Regions from separate parts of the Homo sapiens genome. Here region 2 is linked to region 1. The links come from fine-mapping of genetic effects on gene expression. A gene starts in region 1. The other region holds a variant in brackets. All regions are shown on one strand. Distances are from middle to middle.

Region 1 (2,916 bases):
CTGGGTTAGTGCTCCCAGTCTCTAGTCAAGCACAAGAACATGCCTACCCCAGAGGGCTCTTCCAAATTCCCAGCTATCTGAGATTATGAGACAAAGGTTCTTTAGCGCCTACCAAATGAGCAACAATGAAGATAAAAGGGACCTCTCCTTCCATCATAACCAGTTCCCCAGGAAGCACCATTTCTCTTACTCTTGGAAGGTCGGATATTTTTTCCCTTTACCATACACTGGCCTTCCATGTCCTAACTGCTATTTTCAAATAAATGAACGTTATATTCTTGGAGGACAGATCAGGGATGCTAAACTGCACCTTTATCATGATTTTAGGGATGAGCGCCTTTTACTTAAGTCCTGCTAGTGGCACATATTTTAAAAGGCCATAGAGGACATCCGTGTTGTCAACACAAGTGAAGGCGCTCGGAAGAGTGTTGGTCAGCAAGAATCAGCACAAAGACATTGGAGGAGAGACAACAGCTTGTTTCTGGAAACAAATGAACAACAAAAAAACACTAAAACATCTCGAGGGGGCCCCTGACTTGAGCCCTGCATGGGAAAAGCTGCCAAGAGCTAGCATGACAAGGGACTGGCCCTGGGCTGCGGTGAGGAAACCCAGCGTCCTGACCACACTGCTGGGTCAGCGAGGCGTCCCTCAGAGACCGGAAACGCGGACTTCAGCTCGCTTGGGAAACGGCTTCCATTAGCAGAAGGGAGACTGCGGTTTAGTCCCGAGGTCGCTCCAGCAGCCCGGCCTCACGCGACCCACCATTCCCGCCGCCCCCTCACGGTGCCCGCCGTTCCCGCCGCCCGGCTTTCTAACCGGGCCCCTAGTTCCCCGCCCCGTGCCCTCTGGAGACCTGCAGCTCCTGCCGCCCTGCGCCCGCTCCCAGGGCCCGTCGTTCCGCCGCCCTATCCCTCCTCAAGGGGCCCCTAGCTGCCTCCTCGCGACCCTTTCCGGACTCGGCCTGCCCACTCCTGCCCGCTAACCCGCCTGGCTCCCGGGCGAGAGCCCTCGCGCGGCTCTGGTTCCTGTTCCTCTAACGCCGCCGGGGCTGCGGGATGCCGACTCCGCGGACCGCCCAGACCCGGAACTGCTGAGGCAGCAGCGGGCTCGCGGCGCTTGGCTCATCCCGGGATTCCCCAGCTCTCGCGCTGGGCCCGCCGCGTTCGCACCAAGCACGCCAGGCGGCCCTGGCCTACCTCCCTCCCGCCTCCCGGCAGCTGGCACGAGGGAACCTGGCCGTCAGGTTTCCCCTGGGATCCTGGGACGGTATCAGGCGGGGAATCTGTGCGGCCGCGGCGAGGTAGGTGAGGTGAGGCGGGGCGAGGTGGGCGAGGGGGGCGAGGTGAGGCGGGGCGAGGCGGGGCGAGGCGAGGCGGGGCGAGGTGGGCGAGGTGGGCGAGGTGAGGCGGGGCGGGTGTCGTCGCGCTGGGCCGAGCTTACGACTCCAGCTGACCCGCTCGCGGCTGCCCAATTTCGTTGAGGCTCAGGACGAGGGACGGGGCGGCAAATTGTCACAGAGGTCGCCGTAGACCGGTGTGCAACCGAAGGTGAAGAGCGGGAAGGCGAGGACCGAATCGCCTCTGGTGTGCGTTGTCCGACAGGAAGTCCCGAATGGGCTGTGAGCCGCCGGTGGAGGTGCCCGGGCAGGTGCAGAGCCACAGCCTGCGCCCCGTGAGCCGAGGCGGGTAGGAGGAACAGGGACCTGGCGGCGACACACGTTGGGCGGAAATTCACAATGAACAGGGAAGGGGGGACGGTCACCCACTCAAAACTGGCTAAATGAACCTCAGAGGGAGCCCCGAGAGATGGGGAGCAAAGGTTAGGGGAAGCGGCAGGAGAAAACCTTCTTGGGGCAAAGGGCGTCACCAAAGGGGGTCACCGGAGCCCCGCAGGTTGGGGTGGGAGGGCTGGGCTGGAGGTGAGCAAAGCTGCACGGGGAGAATGAATTAAGAAAGTTGAGAGGAAGCCTGTCTCATCCAAATCACTATAGCTTTTGTGGTCATTGCTAAGTGTGGAGTACTGCGCAAATCCTGAAGGGAACTCTATTAGCCATCTCAGCTTTTATCATCTTAAAACGCGAATTTCGCGTGCAGCTCCATTTAGCTTCGTAAACTTAAGCCCCCGCATATGAAAGGATGAGACCTAATATGACAATCATGTCAGGACTAATGATATATCACACAGGTTGACACTCTGCAATTTAAAAACAGGACTTTGTCTAAACTCCACAAGTAATTCCTTACTCAAAAGTTCTGTGTAAACAAAACAGAGGAACTGTCGTGCTGCTGGAAAGATGTACCAGCATTTTCACAAAACGAATTAAAAGATGGCTTTGCTTTCACTGTCATGGTTCTGTTGTGACAGAGTAGACTGGCTTTTCTGGGAGGGGCCTAGATTTACTATTTTAGTTACATTTTAAAATCAGTGTAATTACTTCGTTTTTAATCTACCACAAATTTCTGTTGTAACTATAAGATTTATATAATCTTATATTCTTACACTAATTTTTATTTGCAGGTGATTTATTTGGCATAAAAGTATTCTTTCAAGGATGGCAGAAGCTGTTTTGATTGATCTTTTTGGTTTGAAATTGAACTCTCAAAAAAACTGCCATCAGACATTACTGAAGACTTTGAATGCTGTCCAATACCACCATGCTGCCAAGGCCAAGTTTCTCTGTATAATGTGTTGCAGTAACATCAGCTATGAAAGGGATGGAGAACAAGATAATTGTGAAATAGAAACAAGCAATGGATTATCAGCTCTCTTGGAAGAATTTGAGATTGTTAGCTGTCCCAGCATGGCTGCCACTTTGTATACCATTAAACAGAAAATTGATGAAAAAAATCTGAGCAGCATTAAGGTAATTGTACCCAGGCACAGGAAGACATTAATGAAAGCTTTTATTGATCAAC
Region 2 (2,916 bases), 54 kb after region 1:
AATGTTCATATCACTGTATGTCCTCTGGCCATGCATTATTTTGTCACAATTCTGAGTGATTGGTGTGGTGAGCGTTTTACGAACATTTCTCCTATACCAGTGCAGCTAGCAGTAACTTAACTATACATTGGAAGTGACTATGAATTACATAAAATACCCCACTAAACCCAAACTAAATGAGTCCCCAACTCAATATCCTCTTAGAAGAACTCAAAAACCTGTTATACCTAATGTTTCTAGGAAAGTGTGATGGAGAGAAGTTGGAATAGACTTAATGGTTGTATTTAAAGCATTTTACTTTTTCAAACTTTATAACAACATATGACTTGTAAATATATTATTGAGACAGTAGAAACAGCCTGTGCAAGTGAGAGACCCTAAAGGTTAAGTTTCATTAGCTTCATGGTAAATCTACTCAAGGGATGACTATTGTAGGGGCAAGTCTGAAATTCTTAGTAAGTCCTAGAAGGAACATTTAGCACAGATTATTGATACTTATGTTTATAATGTTAGGCACTTACAACCAGTAGTTGTCAGCTACAGGCTTAAGTACCAATTCTGGGTCAACAGAAAAAGTCACCGACTTCCTCTGTTCTTTATTTAGTGTTTTAATCTAGACCACGGTCCCTTCTTACCCTGCACATTCTCCCAGGAACCTCATCTTCTCTCATCTATTTAATTGCCACCTTTAAGGTAATAATTCCCAAATCTAGCCCAATCTCTCTCCTGAACTTTAGACATGTATGTTCCACTGTTCATTGATATTCCTGCATCAACTAGAACCTCTTGTCTTTCTTTTCAACCTGCCCTTACCTCCTGTATTGACCAAAGAAAAATCCTAAGAATTATCCATGGCTTCTTACTCTCTGACCTCACCCTACCAACTGCTGAGCACAGTGCCAGGCACATAGTAGATGTGTACTAGACTTGAGGTATTATGTTATAATGTTATAATCATATCAATAACTAAGTCCTGTTGGAGTTCATTCTAAGTATTTCTAATCCACCACTCTCCAGTCCTACTATTCTTATCCAGGCTACCATGTTGTCTCATGTGGATGGATTATTGCAATACTCTTATCTCTACCTCCTATCTTACCCCCTTCCCTAAAATTCATTGTCCACACTGAAACCTGAATGGTTTTTGAAAATGGAACTCTTACTTAGGACACTCTTCTGATGACTATTCTTCGAAGCCTTCATATTGTCCTGGGTATGAAGTTCTAACTCCTTTACCCCTCTTTCAAGGGCCTATACCAGGCCCAATCATACCTCTACTCTCATTTCTTACCACTTTTCTGAAATGAACTCTGTTCTGGCCACATTGAGTATTTCAGTTCCTCAAATTGCCATGCACTCAGTTCCCAGACCCTTTCACTTCTAAATTTCGATTGAACACCAATCATAATGACTCTATCACCTAAATATTTTTTCCATGCCTCTCTCCCACTCCCACATTGCTGCCAGTCTGTTTTTCATCACTTCTTTCTCTGCAATAACCTCTTAATTGATCTCTTCTTGATCCTAGCTTGCTCCTTTCAATTCTTTCTTCACTCTGCCAGCAGAATG[G/A]CCTTTCAGAAACAAACATTTTATCTTATCTCTCCTTTCCTTAAACACATTAATGGCATGTATCCCTACAACTTTTAGGAGAAAAATAAAACGTCTTAACACATAGAGTCCTTTGTGATTTGGTTTCTGCCCATCTAGATCTCTAGTTTCATCTTTTACCCCTCTCTCATACAGATCATTTCCCAGAATGAGGTCCTCCAGTTTTCTAAATATCATGCACTTTCGTACCTCTGGGCTATGCCACGTACAGTTTTCTTTGTGCTTTTATAGCATCCTTATCACACATTTATCTTTCCAACTAGATCACACACTTGTAGGGTTGTTTCTTTATATTTTTTGTGTTTTCTACAATAGTCACTTATTATTTTTACATTTTAACAAAATAAAATAATTGTGAAGGGCGCTATCCATTGAGGAAATTGGATATCCATTGAGGGAATTTAGTTGTAGAAGAGAAAAATGTGGTGGGATGAGACAGGCAACAGGATGGGTGGTGGGTCACAATACCTGTTTTCAAACATCCAAGGGCTTTCTTGGAAGGGTTTAGATGTCCATCTGGTGTAGATTTTAGGGAAACAGATTTCCTCTTAGTGTAAGAAAGTTGAACAGAGTTGTCTGAAGAGGGAATGAGCTGCTGAGTCAATAAGAGGTGAATGAATCACTTTTGGGTTTGTTTAGTGGAAGGGCTCTCACTGATACAGGGAGATTTCTGTTGAAAGAGGGAATTCAGCCTCTTCTGGAAGGTTGGCTCAAGTGGTCTGTGAGGTCTCTTCTATTCTTTGAATTTCACCATTACAAAAATAATTTAATAGCTTTCCACCCTTATACCCTGAAAACAGATTGATTTAACACTATTTAGAGGGTTCTGGTGTGGCTAGAGGAGCACAGGCCCCTCTCAGAATTCAATGTTAGTCATATCTTTGGTAAGAACTATCTATCTATCTATCTAACTATCTATCTATCTTTGATAGAGCCCTTTTCCTTCTTTGTGTTGTTCATCTTTTTTTCTCATAAGTATCCCATTCCTGATGGCCAACACATGACAGAATAGTAGTAAATGAATAACTTTCTATGTGTTAGGACACAACACCTTACTCTGTCCTATATTATGTTTCTCTTTGTGCTTGAATTATCTACCCAATTAGAATGTAAACTGTGCCTTAAATTTGTATGTTCCCCCCTGCATCTTTAAATATGGAATTATGGAATTCTTACTAAAGATTATATTTATCTGTAGTAATAATTCCATATATAAATTAAACTAAATTGAATTTAGGCAACAGGAAAACAGACCCAACAAATCCACCCTGAAATATTTTAGTAATCTATCAATCAAAGGGATTAAAA

Direction of the effects. Alleles are on the strand shown, and positions count from the first base shown. SD is a standard deviation of normalised expression in the study named.
With allele G in place of A in region 2, the expression in tibial nerve of the gene that starts at base 1,471 in region 1 is higher (small effect, 0.25 SD a copy in GTEx).

The links. PIP is the estimated chance that this variant, and not a neighbour inherited with it, causes the effect. A credible set is the group of variants that fine-mapping cannot tell apart.
Region 2: its variant is the best candidate, but not a certain one, in a credible set for the expression of LACC1 in tibial nerve (GTEx, PIP 0.68).

What each region holds. Positions count from the first base shown.
Region 1 is chr13:43,878,434-43,881,349 of GRCh38, forward strand. LACC1 (laccase domain containing 1) reads left to right here and starts at 1,471. Exons shown (of 7, transcript NM_153218.4): 1 at 1,471-1,686; 2 at 2,519-2,916. The coding sequence starts at 2,553. It overlaps CCDC122 (coiled-coil domain containing 122), which reads right to left and starts at 1,307. Exons shown (of 7, transcript NM_144974.5): 1 at 1,198-1,307. RefSeq lists a silencer at 1,209-1,358.
Region 2 is chr13:43,932,257-43,935,172 of GRCh38, forward strand. No RefSeq gene overlaps it. Among named protein-coding and RNA genes, the nearest start is that of LACC1, 54 kb to the left of the region's middle. RefSeq lists a silencer at 1,268-1,407. The variant G/A (reference allele first, on the strand shown) is at 1,570.